Linked DNA regions of Homo sapiens: all the other regions are linked to region 1. Evidence: fine-mapped QTL for protein levels in blood plasma. Region 1 holds a variant in brackets. A gene starts in each other region. All regions are shown on their forward strands.

Region 1 (4,415 bases):
AAGTCTCCCTCTGTTGCCCAGGCTGGAGTGCAATGGCTCGATCTCGGCTCACTGCAACCTCCACCTCCCGAATTCAAGCGATTCTACTGCCTCAGCCTCCTGAGTAGCTGGGATTACAGGCGCACGCCACCATGCCCGGCTTATTTTGGTATTTTTAGTAGAGACAGGATTTCATCATGTTGGTCAGGCTGGTCTCGAACTCCTGACCTCATGATTCACCCGCCTCGGCCTCCCAAAGTGCTGGGATTACAGGCGTGAGCCATCGTGCCCGTCCTGATACTATGTATTCTTAATTCCAGTAAATATCTTGCAGAATGGCTATTCCAATTTATCCTCCCATCAGCAGCTTCTCCCACAACCTTGGCAGCAATTGACTTCCTCTTAATGTTTGTCAATTGGATGGGTGTAAACAGATGGCTCACTCGTGTTTGATTTCTCTAGTTAGTCACTAGTGATTGTAAACATGTCTTCATATGCACATTAGAACCCCAGGCTTCCTCATCTGTGAACTGCTTGTTTATACCTGATGCCACTTTTCCAATAGGTTTCCTGTGTATTTCTTCATCTTGGTCTCCTTCTGTGTTGAATGTCTTCCATTTGTCCTTCCAGATCCACACTCTATCCTTCTCCATGTTGTTCTGTGGCCTGGGAGGCTGAGCTGTATGACTGCATCAAATCGCTCCCTTGCCATCTGGCTTCCAGCCCTCTTCCAGGAAGAGAGGGAAGTGAGGATATTAACTCCCCGGCCCCTCCCTGTAGAGTGGCTGTGGGTTAGCTGCCCCCTGCAACTGAGTATCACAGCTCCTGTTGGGAGGCCCTCTCCCTGCGGTCCTGGAGGTGGTAACAGCTCCCCACTCTGGGATGCCTAGGTTCTTGCTCCATCTTGTGGCTTCCCTAAGCCTGTTCACACCTTTGCAGAGAGTCCCTATATTATGAAATCTTGCACTTACCCATTTTTGGGTGTGCCATCTGTTGCTTGCTGGGAGCCTACCTGATACATTGCTGTTGAACTGAAATTTATCATTTTCATGCAATTTCACAAATTTTTTTTGGCTTTTTGGAATGTGCTTCGGAGGCCTTATTTAACAAGCTCTTCAGCCGGGCGCGATGGCTCACACCTGTAATCCCAGCACTTTGGGAGGCCAAGGTGGGTGGATCATGAGGTCAGGAGATGGAGACCAGCCTGGCCAACAGGGTGAAACCCCGTCTCTACTAAAATTCGAAAAATTAGCTGGGCGTGGTGGCGCATGCCTGTATTCCCAGCTACTCAGGAGGCTAAGAAGGGGAATTGCTTGAACCTGGGAGGCAGAGGTTGCAGTGAGCCAAGATCACGCCACTGCTCTCCAGCCTGACGACAGAGCAAGACTCTGTCTCAAAAAAAAAAAAAAGAAGAAGAAGAAACCCTTCTATACTCTTAGTAGTATAGATTTTTCTTTCTTTCTTTTTTCCTACTAGTTCTGTAATTTTATGTTATATGTTTAGGTCTTCAATCTATCCAACATCCACCTTTGCCTGTGATGTTAGGTATGAATCCAGTTTTACTTATCTTCATAGAGTGAGCCAGTTTTCCCAATAATGTCTTTCTTCTACCAATTTGAGATGTTACCTTTATTGTATATTAAGTTCCCATGTAGGCACAGTTCTGTCTCTCGGCTCTTTATTCTATAACATTGGTTTATCC[G/A]TCTATTCTTGTATCATTACTGTGCTATTTTTATTACTATGGCTTTGTAATATATTTTAAAGTCTAATAAGGCTAGTTCCCCCTTCCTCCAATTTCTCCTTTTTTTCCCATATTGACTTTTATCTTGCCACATATATTTTTTTTAAAGTTGTTGCATTGCTTTTAAAAATCCAATTGAGGTCGGGCGCAGTGGCTCACTCCTCTAATCCCAGCACTTTGGGAGTTTGAGGCAGGTGGATCACTTGAGGTCAGGAGTTCAAGACCAGTCTGGCCAACACGGTGAAACCCCATCTCTACTAAAAATACAAAAATTAGCTGGACGTGGTGGCGGGCACCTGTACTCCCAGCTACTTGAGAGGCTGAGGCAGGAGAATCGCTTGAACCTGGAGGCGGAGGTTGCAGTGAGGTGAGATTACACCATTGTACTCCCACCTGGGTGACAGAGGGAGAATCCATCTCAAAAAGAAAATCAATTGAAATTTTATTTTTATTGCGTTGAATGTATATGTTAATTTGGAAAGAATTTAAGTTTCTTCTTGTATGTTCTTCATGTGTTATTGTGGTGATAGACTAATACACCTGCCGAAGCCTCTTATTAGGTCGAATTGTTTGTTTGTTTGTTGATGGTGTTGATTTTCTGTATAGGTGAGCATATTGTTTTATCTCTTCCTTTCCAATTCTTACAACTTTTAATGTCTTTTTCTGTCTTGTGCAGTTTGGCTACCATGCCCAGGATGATGCTGAACAGCAATAATAGCACTATAACGGAGGCTTCTAATTACCCCTAATACCAATTATCCCCTTCTTGCTACACCAGAGGTCCAGAAACATCTCCTATAAAGGGCCAGATAGCAAGTATTTTAGGCTTACCAGGTCATACAGTCTTTATCATAACTACTCAATTCTGCTGTTGCTGTGGTCATAAATGACATGTAAACAAACAGGCATGGCTGTGTTCCGATAAAACTTTATTTACAGGCCGGGATCCGTGGCTCATTCCTGTAACCCAGCACTTTGGAGGCGAAGGCGGGTAGATCACTTGAGCACAGGAGTTCAAGACCAGCCTGAGCAACATGGTGAAACCCCGTCTCTACAAAAAAATACAAAAATTAGCAGGGTATGGTGGCTTGCGCCTGTAATCCCAGCTACTTGGGAGGCTGAGGCAAGAGGATCACTTGAGCCTGGAAGGCAGAGGCTGCAGTGAGTCAAGATCCAGAGGCTGCAGTGAGTCAAGATCACGCCGCTGCACTCCAGCCTGGGCGACAGAGCCAGACCTTGTTGCAAAAAAAAAAAAAAAAAAAAAAAAAAAAAACTGGCCAGGTGTGGTGGCTCACACCTGTAATCCCAACACTTTGGGAGGCTGAGATGGGCAGATCACCTGAGGCCAGGAGTTCGAGAACAGTCTGGCGAACATGGTGAAACCCCGTCTGTACTAAAAAAAAAAAAAAAAGAAAAAATACAAAACATTAGCCGGGCATAGTGGTGCACGTCTGTAATCCCAGCTACTTGGGAGGCTGAGGCACGAGAACTGCTTGAACCTGAGAGGTAGAGGTTACAGTGAGCCGAGATTGTGCCATTGCACTTCAACCTGGGCAACGGAGAGAGACTCCGTCTCAGAAAAAAAAAAAAAAATAGAAAAAGAAAGCTTTATTTACAGAAGCAGGTGAGGGCCAAAGTTTACTGACTCCTTCTCTACAAAATAGAATCCTGTGTTTTTAGCAAGAATGTGGCCTCATGGAATAAAGTTCATTTCTCAGCCCCATTTGCAGCTATCTGTGGCCCTGGGACTAATTCTGATCAAAGAGATATAAAGTGAAGTGATGGAAGTGTCTGCATAGACAGAGAGAGAATGCGCCATTCTCCTTCCCTTTTCCCCTTTCTCTTGTCCGGAATGTGTCATAACAGGAGGGGCAGACATCTTGGAACATGTGATGGAAGCCACAGATTGAAACGATGGAGCAACAACGTAGAAACAGCTAGAGTCCAGAAAGATTTCATCATAAATCAGAGCTGAACTTTTGCTGAGTGTTTTTTCTGCATTGTGTAATTGTTTTCTTTTGTACACATTTAATCTATTTTTCTGTACTCTCTAAATCTATTATATTAACAGATTTTTCTTATGTTAAATCATCTTTGAATTCTTGGCATCTATACTACTTGAACATGTTACCTTTTTTATTTTTTATTTTTTGTTTTTTGTTTTTGTTCTTGTTTTTTGTTTTTGAGATGAGTCTGGCTCTATCGCCCAGGCTGGAGTGCAGTGGCGCGATCTCGGCTCACTGCAAGCTCTGCCTCCCGGGTTCACGCCATTCTCCTGCCTCAGCCTCCTGAGTAGCTGGGACTACAGGCACCCGCCACCACACCCGGCTAATTTTTTGTATTTTTAGTAGAGACGGGGTTTCACCATGTTAGCCAGGATGGTCTCAATCTCCTGACCTCATTATCTTCCCACCTCGGCCTCTCAAAGTGCTGGGATTACAGGCGTGAGCCACCACACCTGGCCATGTTATCTTTTTTAATGCTGCATTTGATTTGATAGGCTAATATCTGATAAAAGAATTTTAGGCCGGGCATGGTGTCTCGTGCCTGTAATCCCAATACTTGAGGGCGGATCCAAGCAGGCGGATCACTTGAGGCCAGGAGTTCGAGACCAGCTTGGCCAACATGGCAAAACCCCATCTCTACTAAAAACACAAAAATTGGCTGAGCATGGTGGCTCATGCCTGCATTCCCA
Region 2 (4,415 bases), not on the chromosome of region 1:
CAAAGAAGGTCTACCAGGACAGGAAATACTTTTGATCTGTCATTTATCAGATCAGGAGGGAGGGACATGAAGCCTGCCTCCTCTTACAGCTAGGTCATCAAAGAGTTTGACTGTAGCATTTTAAAATAGCGAAGAAAAAAAGGTAACAACACTAGGGGTTTGTTAAACAATTTATGATATAATTAGAGAATGGAATATTATGCATCAATTACAAATAATGTTTATAAAGATACTTAAATGACATGGGAAAATGTTCAAGATATAACAAATAATAGTACATATCTGATGAAAACTATAAGTAAAACATGATATTAAACATGTAAAAATCTTAACAGACCAACAGGTGGAAGGCAGTGGACCAGAATATTAGCAGTGTTTATATTAGGGTGGTAAGAATGTGGATGAATCTTGTTTTAATGCTTATAATTTTTCTAAACATTCTCAATGAAATATGCCTTACTTTTATAGTCAGAATAAAAAGCAATACAAGTTATCTTTTAAAACAACCCACATACACAAAACCCCCAACTAGAGTAATTGCACAAAGCTTAGATTATCAAAAAGAAGAAAAAAATTACTGGAAAAGTTTTGAAGAAGTCATTGAGTACAAGATACTGACGTAGGTGCCGGAAGAAGAGAGCAGTTGGCCGTGCTGGTGGAATAACCCTCTCTGCAAAGGGCCTGGGAGTTGAAGAAGGGTGCAGTCGGGTGGTGGTTATGAATCTCAGAAATCCTGCCACGGAGCCTCCTTTTGTGCCCTATTACTTAACCTTGAGGGACATAGAGAGCATGAGACACCAAGGGGCTTTTGGTTGCCTTACTGTCCCACTAAGAACATAGAATGTTGTTTTGACTTTCCCTTTGCTTAGGGAACCTCCCCCAGATACTCAGCTGGCTGGCTGCTTGCACGTAGAATGGGTTTTGCAAAGTTCCTAGAAGTGAGTTGGAGGAGGCTTGACATAAATCAAGCACTGTGTGCTAAATGCTCCAGAGGGCTACCTTATGTCCTACACAAATGTTACATTTCTAATATTTGTAACTCCTTTAAACGTTTATGCAGATGTTTCCCAATTCCTCAGTAGAATTCTTACCATTATCTTTTTGACACAACCTGTCCCCATCCTATGAAAATCTCTCCTCTGCTAGAGACTTTATTCTTTCTTTCTCTCTCTCCCCCTTCCTTCCTTCCCTCCCTCCCTCTTTCTTTCTTTCCATCTTTCTTTCTTTCTTTCTTTCTTTCTTTCTTTCTTTCTTTCTTTCTTTCTTTCTTTCTCTTTCTTTCTTTCTTTTCTTTCTTTCTTTCTTTCTCTTTCTCTCTCTTTCTTTCTTCCTTTCTTTTTTCTCTCTCCCCTTCCTTCCTTCTTTCCTTCTTTTCTTTTCTTTTCTTTTCTTTTCTTTCTCTCTTTCTTTCTGTCTTTCTTTTCTCATTCTGTTGCCCTGGCTGGAGTGCAGTGGCATGATCTCGGCTCATAGCAGCCTCCACCTCCTGGGTTCAAGCGATTCTCCTGCCTTAGCCTCCCTAGTAGCTGGGATTACAGGTACCCACCATGATGCCTGGCTAATTTTTTGTATTTTCAATGGAGACGGGGTTTCACCATGTTGGCCAGGCTCGTCTTGACCTCCTGGCCTCAAATGATCCACCCACTTTGGCCTCCCAAATTGCTGGCATTACAGGCGTGAGCCACTGCACCCGGCCTGTTCCTTCTTAAGAACACTTTGTCTCCCCTTTAATCTCTGCTGGATTTCAAGCACCCCTTTTACACAACTCTTGATATCCATCAATAAAGAATAATTCCCATAAGCCCATCATGTAGTGACCGACTATTTTTCAGTGACAAAAAAAAAGTCTTTAAAAATAGAAGTAAAAGTCTAAAGTCATCAAAACAACGTTATATCCTGTGTGAAATGCTGCAGTCAGGATGCCTTGTGGTTTGAGTGCCTTGATCATGTGCCCTAAGGGGATGGTGGCGGTGGTGGTGGCCGTGGATGACGGAGACTCTCAGGCCTTGGCAGGTGCGTCTTTCAGTTCCCCTCACACTTCGGGTTCCTCGGGGAGGAGGGGCTGGAACCCTAGCCCATCGTCAGGACAAAGATGCTCAGGCTGCTCTTGGCTCTCAACTTATTCCCTTCAATTCAAGTAACAGGTAAACAATGTTAATGTCTTTCTTTCTGTAAATATTTTTTGAGGTCTTCCAATTGGCTTAGTTTATTTTAAATTTCTAACAATGTGTGAAATTTGAACATTTGAAGTGTAGTTTTGCTGTAATAGGGCAATGTGTTATTTTGAAAATCATTGATTCTCAGACTACAATATAGTATCTTAACAAAAGTCCCTTGGAAATAAATTTTCTAAGCTATTAGTTTCTCTAGCTATTAGTTGATAGTGTCCCAAGAATTTATTATTATTATTATTATTTTAAATTGAGATGGGGTTTCACTATGTTGCCCAGGCTGGTCTCAAACTTCTGAGCTCAAGCAATCCACCTGCCTCTGCCTCCCAAAGTGCTAGGGTTACAGGCATGAGCTACCATGCCCGGCCAATAATTTTTAATTTATGTATCGTTTCTTTCTTTCTTTCTTTTTTTTTTTAATTTAAGAAAGCTGCTGTAAGTAGATTGGCTCTGGAAGCTCTGAATTTAGGTTGCCTATGTTCCTAACACAGGTCCAATTCTCACTAGGTAAGCTTAGGCTTAGCTATTATTTAAACTCTCCAAACCTCAGTTTCCTTAACTGTAAAGTGGGAATAATAATAAACCTCACCTCAAGGTCATTGTGAGGTAAAATGAAATAATCCATGCGAAGGGCTTAGCTCAGTCAGGCTTCAAGATAAATGTGAACTGTAATTACTCTATCTACCTGAATTGAATGAGTTCCAACATGAATTCTGGAGTCACCACAGAAGCTGCTACAACACCAATATTAATAAATTAGTTTTCTTTTACAATCGGCCAAAATGTATTTTCTTAGATTAAAATTCTTTAAGTTCCCAATGACGATGATGAGGAGGATAATACATCTAGCACTTTGAGCAGCACACAGTTCTCGTAACTAGAAGGTAGGTATTACAGTTAACTTCATTTCAGATGAAGAGACTGAGGGGTAGGCACATTAAGGGATTTGCCCAAGGATGTACAGGTGGCAGCTATAGGAGGCAGGGTCTGAACCACCTTAGTCTGACTCCAGTGCCGGTGTTGTTGATTATTATGCTATTCCATCTAACATGGTGTGATTTGTAATTTCATGGACTCAGGTAAATCCAGGGTTAAATTAACTTCGGAAAATCACAAGCACAATTCCTAACAGAAAGAATTTGTTACTTGGGTGGGCTGGAGTAAGATGCTCATTCAACGTGTTCTCAGAGTTAGAAAAAGGCCCCCGCTTGGTTCAAAAACTGGACTGATAGGGGTCAACAGTCATGCTTAAATAAGGACAGTTATTTTTCCCTGAAAGATACATTGAAAAGCCAGTATCCTCAATTTTCTTTCTTATTTTGGCAGTACAGAGACTGCATTATTTGTTGTTATTCTTAAACATTAAGTGTACATAGCCCAAAGAGTATAATTTCCCAATCTGCAGAGGTACAGTAGTTGCATATATACCCGTTTATTTTATGGTCTGACGTACCAGTGAGCACAAATTGTGTATATTTATAAAACGTGTTGATATAATGAAAGACATGAGTTGGCAATGAGATCTGGTACCAAGCGTTTACAGCTACCAAATATATTCTACAAGAATCTTTAACATTTATTTTAAAAAGGTCAAACCTTATTTTTAAGAGATCTCTCAAACTTAAAGAATATTTAAAATTACTTAATTTGTTAGACAGTCAAGGGAAGCCTACCCTGACTGAAAACTATTTAAAATTGGTAATTGTACACTAAATACTTTTCTGATGTGCTTTGTGGACACCTATCTGTCATCAACTTATTCACTCTCTTTTGAAGAGTTTTTGGTAAGACTCAAAACTTTGTATGTTTTCTTTAGAACATTTATTAAAAGGGGACTAGCTAGATAAGTGGTTGGAGAGTTCACACACATAGGGCCTTTGTTTTCTACTTTGACATATATTTACTTTTCAAATGCCAATTCACTTTTCTAGTAACTTTTAGCATTTGATACTGAGTGGCTATCTAATGAAGAAGGAAAGAGATGGGAGTGAAGGGGACACTTTTACAGTCTTTTCCAGTAAGAAAACTTACGAGCAAGAAAAGAATGACCACATAAAAAATGTATGATTTGGCCTGGTGTGGTGGCTCACGCCTGTAATCGTGGGACGCTGAGGCGGGTGGATCACTTGAGGTCAGGAGTTGGAGACCCGTCGGGCTAACATGGTGAAATCCCATCTCTACTAAAAATACAAAAAAATTAGCAGGGTGTGGTGGCATGCGCCTGTAATCCCAGCTACTTGTGAG
Region 3 (4,415 bases), not on the chromosome of region 1:
GTCTGCTCTTCCGTCTTCTCCTGCCTGCTTTATTCTAGCCATGCTGGCAGCTGATTAGATGGTGCCTACCCAGATTGAGGGTGGGTCCGCCTTTCCCAGTCCACTGACTCAGGTGTTAATCTCCTTTGGCAGCACCCTCACAGACACACACAGGAGCCATACTTTACATCCTTCAATCCAGTCAAGTTGACACTCAACATTAACCATCATGATGTGCAAGCTATTTTGCTGGGAATTTGCTAGGATCGAAAATTCCTAGTTTTTTTGTTGTTTGTTTGTTTTGGTTTTGAATCTTTAATGAGAAAAAATACTATTGTGCTCAAGAACACCGTGCGTCTGGTGTGTCATTGGGTCAAGGGTTGGGGACACACATGGCAGAATTCAGAAACAGGGTAACATCAACAAAAATACACACGGTCATAAAAAGAAAAACTGGCACCTGGCATGATCAACTCTGTTTCCTCATCATTCAGCAGCATGTTGGGGATCCTGCGGCTGATGGGGAACACACGTCCAGACTCTGGGCACTGCAGGGTGCCCTCCAACACATCTACCTCCAGCAGCACGTGGTGCATTGTCCTCACCATGGAGATTCCTAGCAAATACTCTAGGTATTTTAAATAGAAGAAATTTAATACAGGGAAATGATTACATATATAGTAGAAGAACTGAGATGTCAAACAGAAGAGTGAGGCAATCCACATTTTAGCAACTGCAGTAAGTGACCTCCAATGTCATGGCTGGAGGGTGCAAATGGTGAGAAGGCAGAAGCTAGAATCATGGTGGACCCCACCTGCAAGAGTCACAAAGAAGATGCATCCATTCAGGTCACAGAGAAGTAAATACTCTAGTGTCTACCTTCTACCTTCTTATTGCTCTCTAGTCTCCCATTTTATCTAGACTGCTGACAAGCATGCAGTGGAAGGTGAGCACCAGATCTGAGAGGAAACAGGCAGTGTCTGGTGGCACACTACACAAGAACTCTCACAGGCATCCACTAGGCTTGCTTGGTGACTCATTTAAGGAGTAACCCTATTTTATGTATCAGAGTAGTCTATGGTGTGATATAGCATATTGCTGCTTTTGATGTTTGGTTTCATTTGTTCCCTGTAGGCACCTAATCACTGTTTTTTAAATTCCCCAGGAGATTCTGGTATACCCAATCAGCTGAGAACCACTGAATAGTGGCTTTCAAAATTTTGAGCATCCAAATATTGTCTTCACAGAAAATCTTAATCTCTGAAGTCTACTGTAAAAACATAGAAAGGCAAGGCTGTTCTGCTTGAAGCGTAGCTTGGGAGCCTAGATTCCTCTCAAACCCAGGCCACTCCTGGGAACATGGTCTGGAGATTTGAATGTTCCCAAATCTAGTTTATCTCATTAGTCGATATTTATGCACATCCTCTGTGTCTCTCAGTGTTCTCTCATGTGTAGACATATGCCCCATTCCAAAGAGTGACTGTAGTGTAATGTGGCATTAAAGGAACCCTGGATAGACCTGTATTGGACCTTACATATTAGAGAGCTCTGCAGATAGCTCACAAATCTCCAAGTCGCTAGCTGTAAATTGAGTGATAATTGGTGTCAGGTTATTTTAGCACAGTTTGGGGATAAAATGGTGCATTAATCTCCCAGTTTGTGGCTTATTAAACTTTGAAATGGAATTATTTGAGACATAAAAGAGATAGCAATACTTTGCTGGATGTTCTCCATTAGTCGAGATTGTTACAGAGGAGAAATTTTTGCCACTGTTTATCAAATATTTTTTCCTCTAGTTAATCCATATCATTCCGGGAGCTTTGCCCAGGAAAAGGACGAATTACTTGCGTTCCTCCGATCTCTTTCAAGTTCTACTCCCGTACCTTTAAACTGTCACACGGAATCTTTGGTGACAGAGGAATAGAGGTGGGCAAGCAGGGCGTTTGGAAACCATACTGAAAACGAATTATCCATAAAGCACAGATTCACCAGCCTAGAAATGGCTCTGTCTGGATGGATTCCTTGAGATGTGTTTTATCTCCATTAAAAACACAACAACTTTCAAACTTTCACTGTGTCTCAAAATGATAGAGAAAAAAATTCAGCCTTTCAAGTATTCAAGAAAAGCTTGAAGAAATAAAAGAAACTCGCTGCTCTCTGGGCCACTTTAGGAGGCAGAGCGTTCCTGGAGAACTTCAGGATTCATTCGCAAGGGAACCCAAGGTGGGCATTCAAAGCCGATCCAAAGGATATTCTTCTTTTTAGAAAACAAAAGGAGCGCAAGGAGTAGGGGACTGAAGGTGCCCAAAGCTAGTGGGTCAGTGTCACTTTCTTCCTCCCTTTCGCCCCTTTCCTCCCGCTCCTTTCTCCCCTGTGGTCTCTGCTCAGCACCCCTTTCTCTCCAGCCCCGACTGCCCATCTTCGCCCCTACCCTCGCGCGTCGGGGCCGTGTCTACACCCACCCCAGGACCTGGTCCGTCCAGGCTCCTTCCCATCCTCACACCCGCGCCTTTCTCCCTGCGGCCCCGGCTCGCTGCTCCAGCTGCCCAGCTCTTCCCAGGACAGGGGATCCCGCCAAGGGGGCCGCCCCCGCCCCGGCCCTCCCCCGCCCGGCCGCACCATAAAGCGCCCGGCCGCTGCCGCGGAGCCCAGCAGCCAGCTCCCCAGCACCGCACGGCGGGGACGCGAGCGCGCCCCCGACGGCAGCCCGGACGCCGAGCACGGGTCACCTGCGGCGCCGGCCCGGGCGCCGACCGAGGTTCAACGCACGGCCCGGGGACCCCCAGGCGGGGCCAACGCCGCCGTCGCCCCCGGCCTCGCGGGGAGCAGGAAGAGCCAACATGCTGGCCCCGCGCGGAGCCGCCGTCCTCCTGCTGCACCTGGTCCTGCAGCGGTGGCTAGCGGCAGGCGCCCAGGCCACCCCCCAGGGTAAGTGGGTTCGGGTCGGGCCTGGGAGCGCCGGGCACCGGGTGCCCCATCTGCTGAGTGAGTGGAGGGACTTGCTCGGCCCTGTGCTCCTGTGGCCTTGCTCAGCCCCTCTCTGTCCCTCCCGGGCCCAATCAAAGCATATTGTGATTGGAGGTAGTGATTAGTCTAGAATTTTCCGAAATTCGATTATCCAATGATGAGAACAATTGCCTAAATAGTTGGGGGATGCAAAATTGTTTCAGACTATGCAAAGATGTGGGGTGGGGTTGCCTTCAAAACTTGCTACACGGTCCTAGACCTCTTAACATGTTAGGCTCTGGTGTAGGGTGAATTCCGGGTCCTGCACCCTGTGCCGGTTCCCTCCAGGCAGCCTTGCTCCCTAAATCCTTCCTCAGGCGGAGCGATGTATGCCCAGAGTCTGCTCTTGACATCCCTGAGAAAGACGCAGAATTACTCTACTTGCCCTGCCACCTGCATTTTCTGCTCTGACTTTGCTTGAACGACAAAAAGAAAGTTTATTTCAAGGATTGGCTTGATGTCTTAATTTCTGAGGTAAATAGGAAGGGCTGAGAAACTGGTCTTTTTCAATGAAATCAGTTCTTTGCAGCAAGATGGATGCAGCTGGAGGCCATTTTCCTAAGTGGATTAAGGCAGGAACAGAAAAGCAAATACCATGTTCTCACAAGCGGGAGCTAAGCAGTGGATAGATATGGACATAAAGATGGAAACAGTAGACACTGGGGACTCCAAAAGTAGGGGGGAAGGTTGGGAAAACTACCAATTGGGTACTACGTTCACTGGGTGATGTGTTCACTAGAAGCTCAAATCCCACCTTATGCAATGCACCCATGTAACAAACTTGCACATGTACCCTCTGAATCTATAATTTAAAAAGAAAAAAGAAAGAAATTGATCTTTTTCTATGAAACGGTAAAAATTCAACAAATAATGTGAAAAGATACTTGGACAATCCTCAAACCCCTTGGTGAAATGGGGTGAAATAGCCATTGGGTAGAAAGCAGTTAAACAGAATTTTTTGTAAAGACCAAAAGGAAGACATGATTTAAGCAAAGAAAGATCTTAGGGCTATAACTGGCCCTAACTGGTCAGGCGTGAGCTTCATCTGTTTGAACTTGGTGCCTGGGTTGATTTATTACTGACTGTGGAAGTAAAACTGGAAGAGACGCACAACTTGAAGTAAAAGTTGTTTTTCCTCTTGTAGCCAGAGCAAAGACTGCCTATGAGGGCGTTCTCAACTTCCCTGCCTCTCGCTGCTGGAATCACCCATTTAAACTGCATTTCGCCAAATAACTCATTTTCATTCCAGACCAGACAACCAGAACTGTGGTTTCAGGGGTTAGAGTACTGCTAACTTTTAGTTTGTGTTGAAGTATTTGAAATGCTGTAGTCCGTGCCCCATACTTCTAGGAAGGTAAAAAAGGAAGCTTTTAAACACTTCAAAAGTCTTATTGTGATGATATTTGGCAAGTTCAAATTTATAGGTATAA
Region 4 (4,415 bases), not on the chromosome of region 1:
TTGCACTTCTCAGGAAGATATGGATGTGTAGTCCAAAAGGAAGTTTTTTGAAGTTGTTCATTCATTTGTGTAACAATTATTTATTGAGCACATGCCACACTCCAGGCCTGTGCTAAGTTCAGCAGCACAACACTGCACATGGTTTCTGTCCTCAAAAAGTTCAAGGAAACAGATGATCCACCAAGCAATTCACAAACCATAATCTGGAGCCTGAGGTTCCCATCTAACCATGCCTTCAGAACACAGTCACAGGCAGACAGTCCAAGAAGAAGTCACATAAAAACAGAAGCCTAAAAGAGAGGCAGGGAGAGGGCAGGAGGGAGAGAAATCTAGGTGGAAAGAAGGCATGTACATAAGCCCAGAGGTAAGAGAAAACGCCTCTTTTAAGGCAAACAGTAAAATTAAGAGATTTAGACACATTGACCTTCACCAAGATTCCCTCGCCTTAGTCTAGGAAAGGTATAATCATAATAGAATGGTTTGGAAGTTAGACCTGTGTGCCCTTAGGAGAATTTCTTAATCTCTCTGCAAGACAGTATTCTCATCTGAAAAATGTAGATAATAATAGCCACCTCACTATTTTCTAATGAAAGTTAAATGAAAAAGTATGCAAAAGGCCTAGCACAATGTCTGACACACAGTAAGTGCTTAATTTGTATTTTACTAACCCAGGTTATAGCCCGGGTGTTATAACCCAGGTTTACTAACCTCATCAAAACCAATATTATCCATTCAAAGGATAACATAATCAGGTGTGGTCTGATTGTTTCAAAGAAGAATAAATGACCAAGATGAAGCCTAGAAAAGAAGTCAGAGAAAGGTCAACTGTCAGGATGTTTTCAGTATGCCTAGAGAAAGTCCTAAAATATTCCAATTCTCATTGGCAACCCTGCTTTTCCCAATAGTTAGATGAATACTTCACATCAGCCCCCAATCCCAAGGTCATACCAATGTCCTATGCATTGAGTCAGGCCCACAGAACCTATATAGCCGTAGACTCACACAGTCATGAACCAAAGGACTCTACCTGAGAGGTAGAATATGTGAGAGACCGATCCTCCACACATTCTACCTCATCTCCCCAAAAGTTACAAACTATCATCATTTTATGCCACAGTGTGACTACCACATGTTTGTTGATTTTTACTGTTTTACTCAGAGTGGTGAGCATTAAAGCCCTTTAAATTAAAAAGACTTGAGTATTTACTTGGGGGAATAGCAAGAAAGTCAAAGGTTTCACTGCTGTTTCTCAGCTGGCATAAGAAGAGAGGTACTGGATGAAGAAAGAGGGTGAGGCAGCTCTAACAGGAGAAGGAAAGTTAGCTCAGCCCTTGGTCACACACCGGGGACCGAACAGGCTGTGGCAGAGGAATGGACCTTAACTCTTAGCAATCAGATGTGTTAAGGTTCCTTTGATGCTGAAGCACTTCCAGCCTCTTCTCAGACCCTCATTCAGAGACCCCAGACAGCAATCCTTTCCAAGCTTTTCTTCCTATAATTTTGATCTATCTTTTCTTTGGGTCAATGACAATATCATTTACCTTGGCTCAGGATGCAACACCTCACATATACAGAGGTCTCAAAGAATGCCTAAGGGAGTACAGTGTGTCTGAGCATAAAATGCAGCAGCTGTCAGTGTAGAGCTTCTTCTTATTCAAAATGAAAAAACAAACACTTTTCCACAACTTCATGGACCACCAACCACGGGACAAAATATGAGGAGCCTACTTCTCTTGCTCCCCAGGTTCCTGTTTTGATCACATCCCCGTGGGAAAGGAGATGAAGCTCCATTCATCAGTGCTAAGAAAGGCTCCCCAACCATGCCATGGCCATGCTATTGGAATGGAAATACCTGCTTTCCAGACACCAGATCTGGCTTCTAGGGTTGAACTACATCCCGTCTCCCCTTTCCCAACTGACCATGCCTTCAGTGCACAATCACAGATACACAGTTGGTGGAAAGTACCTTGAATGCTGGTCACCAGGAGTGACAGAGGCAGCAGTAGCAATTCCAGAGCCAGACACGAATCCCAACCTCTGGAGCACATGCTTCCTTCCAGAACTTCCCAGCAACGCAGGAGACAGTTGAGAGCCTGGCTAGAAAAAGGCCGGGGCTAAAAACGGAACTTACCAAACAGGGTTAGAGAGAAAAAAAAAAAAACCACTGAGATTTTCTCTCCACCCAGCACACTTGTGTGGGGCCCCAGAAACCAGAAACCGGAGGTCTTGTAAATTTTTTTATCTAAGAGCATCACGGAAACTGAGAACAATTTTGTTTGAAGGTACATGAGTGCTTTTTTGTAGGGGGAAGATTCATAGCTTCTACTGTACTCTCAGGGGGGCCAGTACTCAGAAAAGAATAAGGGACCCTGATAGAGAATGTCTGCTTTTCGTTCCCAGGCAGGAATCCCTCTGATTAATTCAGGGGCTAAGACATAGGAGCTTCCCAGTCAAGCCTGGGTAGGTGTCATTCAGAGCCTGAAGTCTGGGAAATCAGACCCACGTAGCCTTTGTGCTGCATATCTTACCCCCAGCACCACCCTCTGCTCTTCTTCCTTTATGATAATTCACTATTTGAAGTTTGACATCAGCCTATCCACTGAACATCAGAAAAAAAGTAAGATTACTTGGCCCAAAAGAATGGATTTCCCACCCTTGTAGTCTGTATTAGTCTGTTCTCACACTGCTAATAAAGACATACCCCAGACTGGGTAATTTATAAAGGAAAGAGAGGGGTTTTGTTTTGTTTTGTTTGTTTTGGTTTTTTTTTTTTTTGAGATGCAGTCTCACTCTGTAGCCCAGACTGGAGTGCAGCAGTGCAATCTCAGCTCACTGCAACCTCCACCTGACAGGTTCAAGCAACTCTCCTGCCTCAGCCTCCTACATAGCTGGGATTACAGGCAAGCACCACCATGCCCAGCTAATTTTTGTATTTTTAGTAGGGTTTCACCATGTTGGCCCGGCTGGTCTTGAACTCCTGACCTCAAGTGATCCACCTGCCTCAGCCTCCCAAAGTGCTGGGATTATAGGCATGGGCCTGTGCCTGGCCAGGAAAGTGGTTAAATTGACTTCTAGTTCAGCATGGCTTGGGAAGCCTCAGGAAACCTACAATCATGGTGCAAGGGGAAGCCAATACGTCCTTCTTCACACGGTGGCAGGAAAGAGAAGCACTGAGCAGCAATGGGGAAAGCCCCTTCCTTATGAAACCATCAGATCTAGTGAGAACTCACTATCACGAGAACAGCATGATGGTAACTGCTCGTATGATTAACTTACTTCCTACTGGGTTGCTCCCATGATATGTGGGGATTATGGGAACTACAATTCAAGATGAGATTTGGAAGGGAACACAGCCAAATCATATCATGTCTAGGAAATTTCAAGCTCATTCCTATTGAATGTAAATTAGTTATTTGCCCACCCAGGACCCACAGGCAAGCCACAGTTCCTGATATAACATATTTGTAATCACTTTTTAATTGGGGACATTTCTGATTCTCAACATGGAGATGAACAATAAAATGTCTGCTCTTCTCAGTCCTCAAACCTGAAGGACATTATGTTAAGTGAAATAAGTCATGCACAGAAAGATAAAAAACCACGTTCCCAATCATATATGGAAGCTTAAAAAATGAGCTCATAGAAGTAGAGAGTAAAATTGTGGTTATCAGAGGCTGGGAAGGGTAGAGGGAAGTGGAGGATGGGAAGAAGTTGGTTAATAGATACAAAGTTACAGCTAGAGAAGAGGAATAAGTTCCAGCATCCTGTAGCACTATGGAGTGAATACAGTTAAGAATAATTTAATGTATATGTTCAAAAAGCTAGAAGAGAGGATTTGGAATGTTCCCAACACAAAGAAATGATCAATGTTTGAGGTGATAGGTATCCTAATTGCTTTGATTTGATCATCACACATTGAATACATGTATCAAAATATTACTCTGTATCCCATAAATATGTATAATTATTATATGTCAACTAAAAATAAAAGGGAAAAAAACATAAAAGTGAAAAGAAAGAACCCTGCAAATAAAATTTGAAACAGCACCAGAATCAAATTCCTCTTGGTCAAATTGTTACACTTTGGAACTGTGTGTTATATTTTTCCTATAAATTGATTTAACCTTAGGATACGACCCTGCTCCTTCAGCAAGAAAAGATAACATTGTATTAGATTTTTAAAAGAGACCCTGTAAATTAATGTTACATTCTCTTTTTTGGGGGGAGGGGGGCACAGGCTCCCACTCTGTCACCCAGTCTGGAGTACAGTGACCACTATGCATGGCTATTTTTTTAAAATTTTTTGTAGAGATGAGGTCTCACCATGTTGCCCAGGCCAGTCTTGAACTCCTGAGCCATAGGATCCACACTCAGTCAGTGGCAGGACGGGGAGTGCTGTGACCTGCTTCCACCTT
Region 5 (4,415 bases), not on the chromosome of region 1:
CCCCACAGCCAGGCACCAATCCCATCAGTCCTCCTTCGGCTGTCTGAGCTGCATTCAAGGATCCTTAGACCAGGTTCCAACCTAGCTCTCCTGCCTAGAATCCTGGGCCACTAGGCCCCCCAACCCACCCACAAGAGCTGCAGGCTCCACTCCTCCCTCCCTGCTCCCTGTTCCTCATCATGCTCTGCCCTAGGCTGCCTGCATCCTTACAAATGTTGAGTCCACCTGAGCCTTGACTGTGTCTTCCTGAAGGACACAAGAATGCTCAGGGACTCGGTAACTGAATTGAGTACCTGGGCATGGGACTTTATTGCATATGGGGCTTCTACCTGGCCCTGAACCCACACAACACTATGCCTCAGTTTCCCCTCTTTGTGCCCAGAGTGTACCCTCCTCTAATTCCACGCTCTCCACCTCCGTGAAGCCCCTGCAGAGTCACTGATCTAAAATGCAGAACCCTGGCTGGGCATGGTGGCTCACACCTGTAATCCCAGCACTTTGGATGGGGGAGACCAAGGTGGGCAGATCACCTGAGGTCAGGAGTTCAAGACCAGCCTGGCCAACATGGTGAAACCTGGTCTCTACTAAAAATACAAAAATTAGCCAAGCATGGTGGCGCACGTCTGTAATTTCACCTACTCGGGAGGCTGAGGCATGAGAATCACTTGAACCCGGGAGGCAGAGTTTGTAGTGAGCCAAGATCACGCCACTGCACTCCAGCCTGGGTGACAGAAGGAGACTCTGTCTCAAAAAATAAATAAATAAATAAAAATTAAAAATGAAATAAATAAATTAATTCAATTAAATTAAATGCGGGATCCAGGTTTCAGAGCATCCTGGACCCCAGAACTGGAGAAAGAGGGGAGCAGCCCTCAGCTGGGATCCCCAGGAGTAAATGTTAGATGGCTCCATGCCTGGCTGACAGCTTTAGGTTTGCTGTGGAGCTTCCTCATATTGTCTCCTTCTTCTGCCCCAACCCTGCATGTCCCTAATAATTTCCAGGCTCCTGTGGCATCTGGATGGCTGAAGAAGCCGGGGAGATGAGGGACCATGCCTTCCAGCTTCTTCCTGGCTGCTGGCCTCGCCCTCCCCTCCCTGGGCTCAGCTTTCCTGCCTCAGGGGTCCATCCATCTGTCTCTGAGCTCGAGAACCACCCACTTCCTTGGGACTGCTTCTCTTCTCTCATGCCACAATTGGAGGATGCAATTTTCATCATCTTTACAGGCGGCTGGAAGGAGGCTTCTCTCTCCACTACACGGAAGGGTAAATTGAAGCCAGTGGGAAGGAATCTCCTCACCCAAGACTTCCTGGATTGCTGGTGGCAGGGCCAGATACCCCTCTCACAGACCTCCCAGTGCACTGCCAGCCTGTCCTGTCTGATTTAGACTGTCAGAGCTGTCAGGAGCTGCTCGGAGTCAAGTTCCAGATGACTGTGTATGTGGCACAAGCAGAGGCTCTGGCTCTGATCTCCCTGAGGGGCACAGCTCCTAGTCCCTCCCTCGCCCCACGCCAGGTAGGACCTCCTTACCTTTGCCCTGATACACCTTGAGGAGCAGGAGGAGTATGAGGGTGACCACTTGCCCCAGCATTTCCACAGGACAGAGGGGCCAGGCCAGCCCCTCCACCCCACCAGACTCTCTGCCGTGCACGGGCTCAGCAGTCCCCAGTCAGCAAGAGGACGATGGGGAGCAGAACTGCCTTGCAACCTGTCCAGCCACAGTTTCCTCAATTAGAGGCTGTTAACGCCTGCTGTGAGCTGACAAGGCCACTGAGAAAGCCCCAGCGCCTGGAGCTGGTCTGACAGTTCCCACAAGCCAAACTGGTGAAGCTTACCTCAAGTGGGAGGGTGCTTGAAGTTCACAGTGACTCACAAAGCCAGTTTCAAAATTGCATCCCGTTCTCTGCTTCAGCCCAAGAAGTCTTCCAATTCTCTGAATCCTATATGGAGAGACCCCCATGGGGGCCAAACAGCCAGTATCCCCAACTGTTCCATTCCAACAGACATTGTGGAGGTGGAGTGGAGAGGGGCTGGAGGAGGAGTGGGCTGAAACGTAGGGCCCTGGATAAGCGGCTAACAGTGTTGAAGGAAAGGAGGAGTAGCTGAGAGAACATAGGAAGAGACCTAAGGGCTGGAGGCACTAGAAAAATCTAGCAAGCCTGGGGATTCCATGCAAGTTGACACCAAAGTTTAAGCACATGTAAATTAAATTTGTTTCATAAGAATTTGTTTCACACGGGGCACAGTGGCTCACGCCTGTAATCCCAACACTTTGGGAGACTGAAGCAGGCAGATCACTTGAGATCAGGAGATCGAGACTAGCCTGGCCAATATGGTGAATCCCCACCTCTACTAAAAATAGAGAAATTAGCCAGGCTGGGTGGCGTGCACCTGTAATCCAAGCTACTTGGGAGGCTGAGGCAGGGGAATCACTTGAGCAAAGGAGGTGGAGGTTGCGGTAAGCCAAGATCACGCCACTGCACTCCAGCCTAGGTGACAGAGCGACACTGTGTCTCAAAAAAAAAAAAAAAAATTTTGTTTTGCTCCACATTTCCGATCTGTATGCCTAGATTCCCTCCCTTCCTCTTTTTCTACTTTTCTATAGTAGTCCTCTCTTCCCTCTTTTGTCTTCTCCCAGAAGTGACATGGGCCTATTTTTGCTGCCTTCCCATCCATGCTTGGACGCCACCCTCCAGGAAGGCCAGGCAGCTCTGGATCTGCTTAGGCCCCCATGGAGGGGTGGGGACAGCGGCATCCCCCCTCCCCTGGAACACTGTGCTTCAAGGCCAGGCCCCAGGGTTCATGCCTCTTTCTTTCTTCCTTCTGCTTTCCCCTTAACAAATACTTTCAGTTCCCTTCAAGTCCGCTCTTATTCTCTTTTTCCATCCTTTGGTCCATTTCCAGCCACCCTGTCTGAACTGGGCAGGGGGCAGCAGACTGACAGCTTCAGCTGCCAACAGAGGCAGCAGCGGGGCTCTGGACAGAGCGCTGGATTTAGAGTCAAAGACTTGGACTTGCAGCTCCCATTCAGCAACTTACAACCTATGTGATTCTGGCCTTGTTGCTGTCTGAGCCTGTAGGGTCAACAATACATCCTCCCCACCTTCACAAGGCAGTTTTCAGGATCAAATTAAAAATGATACTCCAGAATATGCACACAAAAAACACTGGACATAGATGAGGTTTTTGTGGTTTTGTTTTCATTTTTTTAAGCTCTGAATAGCTTTTTCCAGCGGGTCTAATGGTTATCATCTCTTCTCTCCTTTGTCTGCTCCCAAGGGGCAGCCCTCAACCCTGGGGAATTTCTTCAGAGTTGATCTGGCCATGTCCTTAACCTTGAGAAGTGGTGCACAAGACATGATATAACAAAGAAGGGTAAACTTCCTCACACGACAGGTGGAAAACAAGATCCAGCTGTTGGAACCCACTAATGAATGTGAATTAGGAATCAGCCTCTCCAATCCTGACCCCAACACCAGCTCCATCCTTCCCACCAGGCATGTGGATGACCTATCATCCCCTGGAAACAGAACTCGGAGCAGCTGTACCACTGAGTGTGTGTCTGTCTTGTGGTCCCTGACAAACTCTATCACACAATATCTGCTATTTGTAGGCTGATCGCAGTGGCTCATGCCTATAATCCCAGCACTTTGGGAGGCCAAGGCAGGTGGATCACTTGAGGTCAGGGGTTCGATATCAGCCTGGCCAACACGGTGAAACCTCATCTCTACTAAAAATACAAAAATTAGCCGGGTGTGGTGGTGTGTGCCTGTAATCCCAGCTACTCGGGAGGCTGAGGCAGGAGACTCCTTTGAACCTGGGAGGCAGAGGTTGCAGTGAGCTGAGATTGTGCCTCTGCACTCCAGCCTGGGAGACAGAGCAAGACTCTGTCACAAAAAAAAAAAAAAAAAAAAAGGTGCTGGGCGCAGTGACTCACACCTGTAATCCCAGCACTTTGGGAGGCCTAGGTGGGTGGATTACCTGAGGTTAGGAGTTTGAGACCAACCTGGCTAACATGGTGAAACCCCGTTTTTACTAAAAATGCAAAAAATAAGCCAGGTGTGGTGTTGCATGCCTGTAATCCCAGCTACTTAGGAGGCTGAGGCAGGAGAATCATTTGAACCCAGGAAAAGGAGGTTGCAGTGAGCCGAAATCACGCCATTGCATTCCAGCTTGGGCAACAAGAGCAAAAACAAACAAACAAACAACAATAATAAAAAAAAAAAACAACCTGCCATTTGTTCTACACACTGACCTCCCCAGCCCTGAGCTCTTCAACACAAAGTCTATGCTCTCCTTAGCTTAGTGTTTCCAAGCCTCACCCAGCGCCTGGTTCTTCAGAGTTGATTCGTAGATTGTCAAGTGCTGAAGGAATGAATGAATTCTCTAAGGAAGACATTTCTATTTCCCCTGAGAT
Region 6 (4,415 bases), not on the chromosome of region 1:
TTAGGTTAAAGGGGGTTAAAAAGGCATGATTATCAAATGAAGTATGTGGTGCAGGACTGGCTTCTGGGTTCTCTACCAGGAAACAGTATTGTATCAATGCCACATTTCCAGATTATGATGATTCTGTGACTTGTTGGAGAATGCTCTTGTTCTTATGAGACATATGATAAAGAATTACAGGTGAGGTGTCATGAGATCTGAAACTCTCAAATGGTTTGGCAAAAATAACAGATGGCAAAAATAACAAAGAAAACTAATGTGACAGTTAACTGGTGATTCAAGGAGAAAGTACGCAAATGTTCACTGTACTAATTTTGCAACTGTCCTAAAGATTTTAATTGTTCTAAAATTTCAAAAAAAACCCTAAACTGAAGTATTAACGACTTCCATCACCCCTTTCTTTGCTTTACTCATCTCTGTACTAGTAAATGTTTACTTTATCACCATCCAGCATCCATGTTTTTACTCATTTACTTACTGTCTCTCTCCCTCACTATAAGGTGAGCTTCACAAAGGCAGGGAACTGTGCATAGCTTGCTGTATCCCCCGTCCATTGTGCAGTGCTTAACATATAATTGACACTCAGTAAATATTTATTGCATGACTGATGTTCCCAGTAATTCTATGAAGTGGGTTTATTATTCTCCTTTCCCTCATGTGAGTGGTACTCTCTTCAAAAGTGAAGGTACTGAAGTGAAGAGAAGTTAGGGAACTCACACAAGTTCATGACTCAGGTGAGGAGTGGGGCCAGGATCCAAAGCTAGGCATCTGACCCCAGAGCTGATGCTGTTAATCACTGCATTTGCAGCTTCCCTAATGAGGCAGGCTTGGGTCCCCAAAAGGGGATATACCCATTCAGTCTTGTCTTTAGTTTAAGGCCTATGCAGAGCAGTTTATAAATACATGTTTGCTGAATCAAATGACTTCTGAATGAATACATGAATTAGGTGAGAGAGATCACCAGGAAGGGACAGTTCAAATAATCTGTTGGAGGTGGAGCTTGGGCAAACTGGGTTTGCAGTGGAAGGGAGAACACAGGTACAGGCAGCAGTGACCCAAGGTGCCAGGGAATGAGGGACCAGCTTGCCTGGAGGAGAGTTACCCCATCCATTCAATTAATCCCTGTTTGTATCTCTTCTTTTCCCCAGCCACCCGCACATGAACTCCCCAGAGCTATTTGGGCCCTGTGATGGTAGTCCACCCTGGCCTTCTGGCCTCCCTGCCTCCAATTCCTCCTGACTGCAGCCTTCCTCTTTGTTGCTAACAGATTCTTCTTCCCAGGCGCATGGTCCTGATCCTGTAAGGCCCAGGAGAAGCTCTCTCAGCTCAGAGAATCCAGACTCCCTAAGGGGACACTCAGCAATCTTTTCCCACATTATCACATGTCCACACATCACCAGTCCTTGAAGGCTGGGCTCAAATATCCTCCCTCCCATGAAGACTGCTTCACAAAAGACACTTGATTTCACAAAAGAGACTGCCTTCTTCTTCCCTCTGTACCCTCACAGCTCACCTTTTTTTTTTTTTTTTTTTTTTGAGACAGGTCATATTCTGTCACCCAGGCTGGAGTTCAGTGGCACAATCACAGCTCACTGCATCCTCTGCCTCCGGGACTCAGGTGATTCTCCCACCTCAGCCTTCCGAGTAGCTGGGACTATAGGTATGCGCCACCACGCTCAGCTAATTTTTGTATTTTTTGTAGAGCCGATCTTTCACCGTGTTGGCCCTGCTGGTCTCCGATTCCTGGCCTCAAGTGATCCACCTGCCTCAGCCTCCCAAAGTGCTAGGATGACAGGTGTAAGCCACCACGCCCAGCCCAGGCCTCTTACAACACTGACTTATCTGATCGTGCGGGTACTTTTGAGTCTATCTCAACCCCTCCCCCTTGGCTGTCTTCCATAGATGCACACGCGCACCTCCCGGGCAGGCAGCGGACGCTGAGCAAACGGACGGACGGGCTGGAGGGCTGGCAGTGGGGTGCAGGAGCCAGCCATGAGAACCCCTCAAGTACAGTTGAACTCGCTGGGAGGTTACTGCTGTACTCCCGGGGTTTTGCTATGGCCTGACTGGGGCCAATGTGTGGAGGGTGAAGGAGGATGGGGAGGCAAAATGGGAAGAAGGGGACCTATTTCCTGAGGTTGTTGTGACGACTTGGCTGACAACACACGGAGAGGATGGAACCAGTTCTGATACTAGTTTTTAGGATTTGAGGGGAGGAAAAAGGAGCAGGAGTCGCACCACTTAGGAATCCCAACGTGAGGCCGCTGCCGACTGGGCTTCCTAGTTGCCTACCCGCTCCTCGCTGTGGGGCGATTCTGAAAAGTCCTCTCTGCTGATACGGCGGACGCCGCGCGGGCGGGGACGGCACCGCGCGGGGAGGGCAGCAGGCGTCGCCCTCGAGCAGGTGGCATCCGCGCCCGCTCCCCGTCCCGGGCGCGTTCACGGCTGGGAAAAATTTTGCAGTCCGCTGAAGCGCTCAGCGACGTTACTGGGGAAGCCCAGGAAGGAACTTGGTCACTGGAGCTCGGGAGGGGGCCGGCGGGGGGGCGCAGGCCCCGCAGGAGAGGCTAGCGGGCCGGAGCCCGTCCTTCCCTAAGGCCACACAGTTCCTTGCTGACTCCATGAGGGACACTGGCGATGAAATAACAACTTTCTCTTCCTGAAAAGGCTCCCACGGCTGAGTTGTTCCCGGCCCACAGCGACCCGTCCCCACCCGTCTCTGATCGGCAACCGCCTCGAGCCCGGCGCGTCCACCCAGCCTGGGTGCTGCCCAGTACCCGCCGGCCGGCGCGGGGCCCCTGGGGCAGGCTTCACTCACCAAAGCAGTGCAGCAGGCAGACCACGCTGAGGACCCCCAGGGCCCGCCCCGCGTCGCTCCCAGCAACCATGGCTCGTCGGGCCGGCCTCTGCGCGAGTGCCCAGCCACAAGCAGCCCTAAGTTCAAGCACCGCCTACGCGGTCGGCCAGAAGTAGGGCTCCGCCCCGCCCTGGGCTGGCAGCCGGCGGCCCGCCCCGGCCCTTCCTCCCCCACCCTCCGCGGCGCCGCGTTTGTCTTCGCGCTTCCACTCCCCGGGCGCGCCTCTGGCCTCGGCTCTGCGCGCCTCCTTCCTGTGTCCCCGGGGCGCCGTCCAGTCCCCCAGCTCGGTCCCTCCCGTCATTCCGCCGCCATTCCATACGCTATTTTTAAGTAAGAAATTCTTTCCTTGAAAATGGCTTGGTTTTAAAAACCAAGGTTTTAAAGTAAGAAATTCTTTCCTTGAAAATGGCTTGGTTTTAAAAACCAGGTTTCTCTGCCTTCCTACCGCACCTCCCGCGCTTCCCCTTAGCGTTTGGGGCGTGCTGTAGGCCCCTCCGTGGCTAGACGGGGCTGTGGCTCCCAGAGAGCCACCGGAGGAGGCAGCAGGACGGGCGGGAGCACCCGGGGCCCCTCATCCCTTCAGCGCTGTGTGATCCCGCATCAGACGGCCTCTTTGAACCACTTTTCCTCAAACATGACAAGGAAAGGGAGCATTTTAGACAACTGTTAGGCGTAGGGTTACCTGAGGCAGGCCTCCCCCGTCCCCATACTCCCTTATCCCCGGAGCTGGGATTTCCAGCCTTTGGTTTCTCCCTTCTCAGATTCCTCTTTTTCTGTCTTCCCCCATCTCAACCGGGACTTTCCCTCAGGCTGAGATGTCAGATCCACATCTCCCTCACTGCCCAGCCTCCCCACATCCATCCAGCCCAAGCTGAGGCAGGCACTCATCACTCTCCCCGCTCTTCATCAGTCTGGATTGAGCTGGCCCTCCCCTCACATCCCTATATCCCAGAACAAATGACCCTATTCCCAGAACCAGCTCCTCACATCAGCCTCCCTGTCTGTCCCCTTTCTTGCAGACAGAAGCACCAGAGTTGCCCCTGCCCAGCTGAGGGAGTTCACAGAACTCTTAGTTATTATGTGAGCAGGAATCCATTTCCATGAACAGGACTCCCTGCTGCCCAAATAACCACCAACACATACATGGTGCAGGTTGTGAAACTGAGTGGGAATGTGCTTTCTTGCTGCTTCACCTCCATTATCCCCAGGTGGGGACTCGAAGTCACTCAAGACACTTGAACCATATTGCAAAGAGACATGAATTATTTCTTAAGTTAGCCATAAAATCTTAAAAGGTATCTCTATCAGTGAAACTTCTGGGACCAATGCCCTCTACCACAAACCTGCTATCTCGAGATATTCCCTACCATCTGTAGATACTGGGAACACAAGGCAGGGGCAGTGTGTAACATAAAATATGAGGAAATCAAGTGTTCTCTGCCCTGGGCTGGTAGGAACTCAGGCCAACTTAGAAAGGCAGGATGGGGTTAGACCTTCAGACACTGGGGAGCCACAGAAAGTTTTTGAGCTGGGAAGTGATATGACAGCAAACATCTAT
Region 7 (4,415 bases), not on the chromosome of region 1:
TCAGGCTAACAAACCTCTGGGTTGCCACTGTCTCCATTCTGAGCCATCAGAATTGTATATACATTCATCTGCTGATGTCTCTGTATTTCAAGCTGTATGTCTTTACACCTTTATAATACACAGTACAGATTTTGCTGCTTAAAATTCTAGTATTTCCTATAGACACTAAACTCAATTTTAACACAATGAATATGTTAAAACATTATATATGTGTTGGATTAACACATATAATGCAACTCATTTGTTGCTAATCTATCTTGGATTCCTTGGGTAGAATCTGTCTTCTCACCTGTCTGAAATGGAATTGAATCTCCTAACTTCTTACTATTTTTTTAAAGCCACAAATCCCTTTTAAAATGTCCGTTTAAGGCTGCTAAACTCACATTGTTATAGAGTATATTTTATATACTTTTCTTCCTTTTAAAAGATCATATACACTTTTCTCCTGGCCTCTAATTTTGCCAAATATTCTGCCATAACAGCAAGCTCACAGAACACAAGTATTTGCTTAAAGATATTTAAAGCAAATCCCCAAAGAGTTTTCTGTTGCAAATGTATTTTAAGACATAGGCTGAGGAGCTGAGTATTCAAATCCATGAGTTCTGACACTGATGTTTTATTAGGCCTACCCACATGAAAATTAGTGCTTACTTGCACAGTTATCTTATTTAAAAATACATTTGCAAAAAGAGAATAATTTCATTTTCACTGATTCAAAGGTCTATCTTTTCGAGTATTATAAACTTACATAGTACAAAAAGATTGGTAAAAGGGATGAGAAAAATAAAGGGCAATAGTAAGGTGAGTAAGGAAAGCAAAATTAAACTTGGAGACTTGGGTTCTAAATATAGCTTGTCTACATCCTAGCTGCAAGATCTTAGGCAACTCAACTAACCTCTCTGAACATCACAGATAAAATGGGGAATAATAACATTATCTAGCTCAAGGGTATCGTACAAATTATACAATATATGTAAAGTGCAAAGCATAGTTCCTGCACATAGTAAGTGCTCCATAAGTTAAATATAATAATAATCATAGTAAAATAATATTCTTAACTACAATCTTATTAAAAGGTTATTACCTAGAGTTTAAGCTGTGGGGTTATTTCCATTTGCACAAAGTGTGATAGAAATTTGGCTCTGTAGTTCCTAGCAGCCAATGTAAGAGTAAAACAAAAAAGTTTGTAAGTATCAAAAGATTTATTTACTTAAATATAAGAACCCTACAATAATGCTTCCAAACTAGGGTTTGCAGAATTACCACAAGGGCTCTGTCTGTCTAAAAGTCCCCCAAGCATTATCTATTGTTCAAATAAATGAGTTGCACATGTGTGTACTTTTATTTTTAAAGGCATATAGATATTGTATTAATAAAACCAATTCATCTAATTGTATTGTTGAATTTATACTTTTTGCCAGTAAGCATTTTCCTAATAGATGGACTTAACTAAGAACATCAGAATGGTGAAGAGCATTGTGTTAATACAATTCATTGTCTTATTTGTTAAAAAAGTTGAAAAAGTATTGCTGAGAAAAAGGAAACAAGTTAACTTTTGTTAAAGGTATCTCTTGGTTTTCACTGTCCTTTCCCTCATCAGTAGCGCCAAGAACATCTTAAGTCACAGAAACATTAGTTTTTGGAAGCAGGGTTTGCTGTAACTATAGTAGAAATGACATTCTGATTCCACTCCTAGCTTCACAAGGATATCTGTGAAAGATTTGGGGCAAAACTGTTAAGCTGTCTGAAAGTGCTTTTGCATAAGAAATGGGTTTTACTGCTAAAACTGTCATATTGCTGAGTTTTGAATGCCCTAATGGTAAATGATACTGGGTTGCCAAAAATAACCAGATTAGTAGTTTTTTCATTCATTTGGCCGTCTCAGTAAGTCAAATATTGATACTTTCTACTAAGTCATCTTGCCAACACCCATTTTGTTATACTTATGCTGAATCTGTTTGTCATCTCTTAAGTAAGAAAATTATTGATTATTTTGTGGGGATTTAATTTAAAAAAAATGGTAATGGATACTGTAAAGGAGCATTATTTGGATGGTTTAAAAACATCTTCCTTGATGGGAAAATCTTTTAAAAGGCTTTCTAACTTGGTGTAATTACTTGAATTAAGGAAGTGCAATGCCATTCTACTGACTTAGAACAACTTTTTTGACTTCCTGCAAAGAGGACCCTTACAGTATTTTTGGAGAAGTTAGTAAAACCGAATCTGACATCATCACCTAGCAGTTCATGCAGCTAGCAAGTGGTTTGTTCTTAGGGTAACAGAGGAGGAAATTGTTCCTCGTCTGATAAGACAACAGTGGAGAGTATGCATTTATTTATTTACTTTTACATTTTTGATTCGTTTTTACAGAGAAAAACTTCTACAGAGATAACAATTATTTTGCTTTTCAGAAGGACGCATGCTGTTTCTTAGGGACACGGCTGACTTCCAGATATGACCATGTATTTGTGGCTTAAACTCTTGGCATTTGGCTTTGCCTTTCTGGACACAGAAGTATTTGTGACAGGTAAGTACAAGGATATTAATATTTTTTAAATTATTTTTTCTCTTTTGGAGGAATGTTTGAAATAGACATAAAAATAATTTAAATGTGTTGGTAACTGGAAGTGAGAAGCCTGCTGTAAACCATCAAGATTGTTGTCTCAGGGAGACATAGCTAGTTGTGTGACAGAATACATTGTTTCTGTTTACAAAGACATAAATGTTTCGGGACAAAAAATACAATTTTAAAAGGAAAGCAATGTCTATCTGTATCTTTATTTACAACTGTTCAAAGATATTACAAAAGCAACATTATTACTTAACTTCCAAAGTGACAATAACACACATTTATAAAAGCCTGAGAATTTTTTAATGATAAAATAAGTGAGTTTTTATTCTTTTAACAAATTTGATCTTTTAAAAAGTCATAAAACAGCTTTGGTTGTATGTAAGCCACTCCCTCTTTTCAGACCTGAAGTTTGCTTCCTCAAATTTTGAATTTAATTGACATATTTTATTGAATACTTGGGTATATAATAGTTCAAAAATATATTGAGATATTTAGTAAAATATTAACTTTCTGCAATTTTTATCACAGAATGTATTTTAAATCAAGTTTTTAGTTTCTTGTTAATAGTTTTAATACATTTTTGCTTTAGAAATTCTTGTGGAGCCACCGCCCTTCCTGGGTGGTGGGTAAATATTACAGCCTTGATGAGATAGAAATATTTAAACTCTTAAAAATCATGCAAATGCTGTATTCAGTAGGAAAATGCAACTAGTTGGACTTCCAGTGCCTATTAAAGTTTGAAATCTTTGCACATTTATGGTCTATTCAATGGATAGTTCTTGAGCGGCGTCAATATGAATCATGAGTACATTTCAATAGATTATAGAATGTAACTAATAATTAATATTTAATATTTCTCTTTATGATGTAGTATCTAAAAGGACATTGAAAATAAAATTTTTGTAGAAATTCCAAAAAGTATAAAAAGTATTTTAAAACAACTTGCTTATTACAATTCACTTTGAAGTCTTTTTTTGACTTTTACCGTTCTTCTTTCCTCTGAAAGTCAGGGAAGTAGCTACCTCTTGAGCATGTTACATTGACAATTTCTATTTGGAGAGGAAAGAAAGAGGAAAGAAAAACAACATAAGATTTTTGTTGTTGTTGTTGTGGCTGTTTTGCTTTTTATTGCAAAGGTGAATTTTTTAAAAATCTATATATTTGCAGCATTTGTCTTAGTACAGAAAATGTTTATCAAGTTACCATCCCTTTAAAGCTTATGATAATAAAAAGTAAATTATAAAGAATAATAATCTCAATGAAGTGATATATGTATATTATCACAAATCAGAACAGATTTTCATTTAAAATTCCCACTCAGGAAATGTCGAAAAGCATTTTTAAATGAGCATAAAGAAATACTGAGACATTTTGTAAGCCAGAATATTTTTCTTCTCTTCATATTCATTTAACTTCTATTATTTTCTTCAGGTCTAGCTCCATTGCTTTTTATTCCAGGCAAACTTCCCAACCTCCTGAATAGACCAAATATCCTATTATATGCTTAAATCAGAGTGTGAAATATTTCCTTTGTGAATAAAAATTCAACTCATTCTATTACAGGATGTTTTTTTAACCATAAGACACATCTTTGAATTTATAATTGAAATAATATGATGGGGTCTAGAAACCTTTATATCAACTTTGCTGAATGATTTATACCATAGCAAATAAATGGATATACATAAATTTATTTTGAAAACTCAACTTTATCTTCAGTTGCTCACATAAATATTGAGAGCAAACATTTTTCTAAAAGACATTTGTAGACTCCCTGAGATATATGCTTATTTGTGGAAAAACATATACAGATATAATCATTTGTATCTGCAAATATTGTTTA

Alleles and levels. Alleles are on the strand shown, and positions count from the first base shown. The strength of an association depends on the size of the effect and on how common the allele is.
With allele G in place of A in region 1, the plasma level of the protein whose gene starts at base 2,035 in region 2 is lower (moderate association).
For the plasma level of the protein whose gene starts at base 2,630 in region 3, G is the low allele of the variant in region 1 and A is the other (moderate association).
With allele G in place of A in region 1, the plasma level of the protein whose gene starts at base 2,107 in region 4 is lower (moderate association).
For the plasma level of the protein whose gene starts at base 1,799 in region 5, A is the high allele of the variant in region 1 and G is the other (moderate association).
In carriers of allele A in region 1, the plasma level of the protein whose gene starts at base 2,942 in region 6 tends to be higher than with G alone (moderate association).
As copies of G replace A in region 1, the plasma level of the protein whose gene starts at base 2,226 in region 7 goes down (moderate association).

The links. PIP is the posterior inclusion probability: the model's chance that the variant is causal. Protein levels are from antibody-based Olink assays in UK Biobank. Linkage for the fine-mapping came from a reference panel and not from the study's own genotypes, which makes the PIPs less certain.
Region 2: CD28 starts here. The variant in region 1 is fine-mapped to the plasma level of the CD28 protein (UK Biobank, PIP above 0.99).
Region 3: it holds the start of THBS4, and the variant in region 1 is fine-mapped to the plasma level of the THBS4 protein (UK Biobank, PIP above 0.99).
Region 4: CD48 starts here. The variant in region 1 is fine-mapped to the plasma level of the CD48 protein (UK Biobank, PIP above 0.99).
Region 5: it holds the start of CD244, and the variant in region 1 is fine-mapped to the plasma level of the CD244 protein (UK Biobank, PIP above 0.99).
Region 6: it holds the start of CD58, and the variant in region 1 is fine-mapped to the plasma level of the CD58 protein (UK Biobank, PIP above 0.99).
Region 7: PTPRC starts here. The variant in region 1 is fine-mapped to the plasma level of the PTPRC protein (UK Biobank, PIP above 0.99).

Annotation. Positions count from the first base shown.
Region 1 is chr17:7,164,412-7,168,826 of GRCh38, forward strand. No RefSeq gene overlaps it. Among named protein-coding and RNA genes, the nearest start is that of ASGR1, 13 kb to the right of the region's middle. The variant G/A (reference allele first, on the strand shown) is at 1,682.
Region 2 is chr2:203,704,605-203,709,019 of GRCh38, forward strand. It overlaps CD28 (CD28 molecule), which reads left to right and starts at 2,035. Exons shown (of 4, transcript NM_006139.4): 1 at 2,035-2,144. The coding sequence starts at 2,093. RefSeq lists an enhancer at 1,915-2,064.
Region 3 is chr5:80,032,719-80,037,133 of GRCh38, forward strand. It overlaps THBS4 (thrombospondin 4), which reads left to right and starts at 2,630. Exons shown (of 22, transcript NM_003248.6): 1 at 2,630-2,907. The coding sequence starts at 2,820. It also overlaps the pseudogene TRMT112P2.
Region 4 is chr1:160,709,716-160,714,130 of GRCh38, forward strand. CD48 (CD48 molecule) reads right to left here and starts at 2,107. Exons shown (of 4, transcript NM_001778.4): 1 at 1,967-2,107. The coding sequence starts at 2,048. RefSeq lists enhancers at 2,356-2,535, 3,076-3,135.
Region 5 is chr1:160,861,089-160,865,503 of GRCh38, forward strand. CD244 (CD244 molecule) reads right to left here and starts at 1,799. Exons shown (of 9, transcript NM_016382.4): 1 at 1,529-1,799. The coding sequence starts at 1,589. RefSeq lists an enhancer at 1,615-1,664.
Region 6 is chr1:116,568,085-116,572,499 of GRCh38, forward strand. CD58 (CD58 molecule) reads right to left here and starts at 2,942. Exons shown (of 6, transcript NM_001779.3): 1 at 2,819-2,942. The coding sequence starts at 2,888. It overlaps LOC124904385 (a long non-coding RNA gene), which reads left to right and starts at 2,891. Exons shown (of 2, transcript XR_007066497.1): 1 at 2,891-2,969. RefSeq lists an enhancer at 2,014-2,073 and silencers at 2,544-2,613, 2,684-3,143.
Region 7 is chr1:198,636,815-198,641,229 of GRCh38, forward strand. PTPRC (protein tyrosine phosphatase receptor type C) reads left to right here and starts at 2,226. Exons shown (of 33, transcript NM_002838.5): 1 at 2,226-2,323; 2 at 2,412-2,527. The coding sequence starts at 2,455.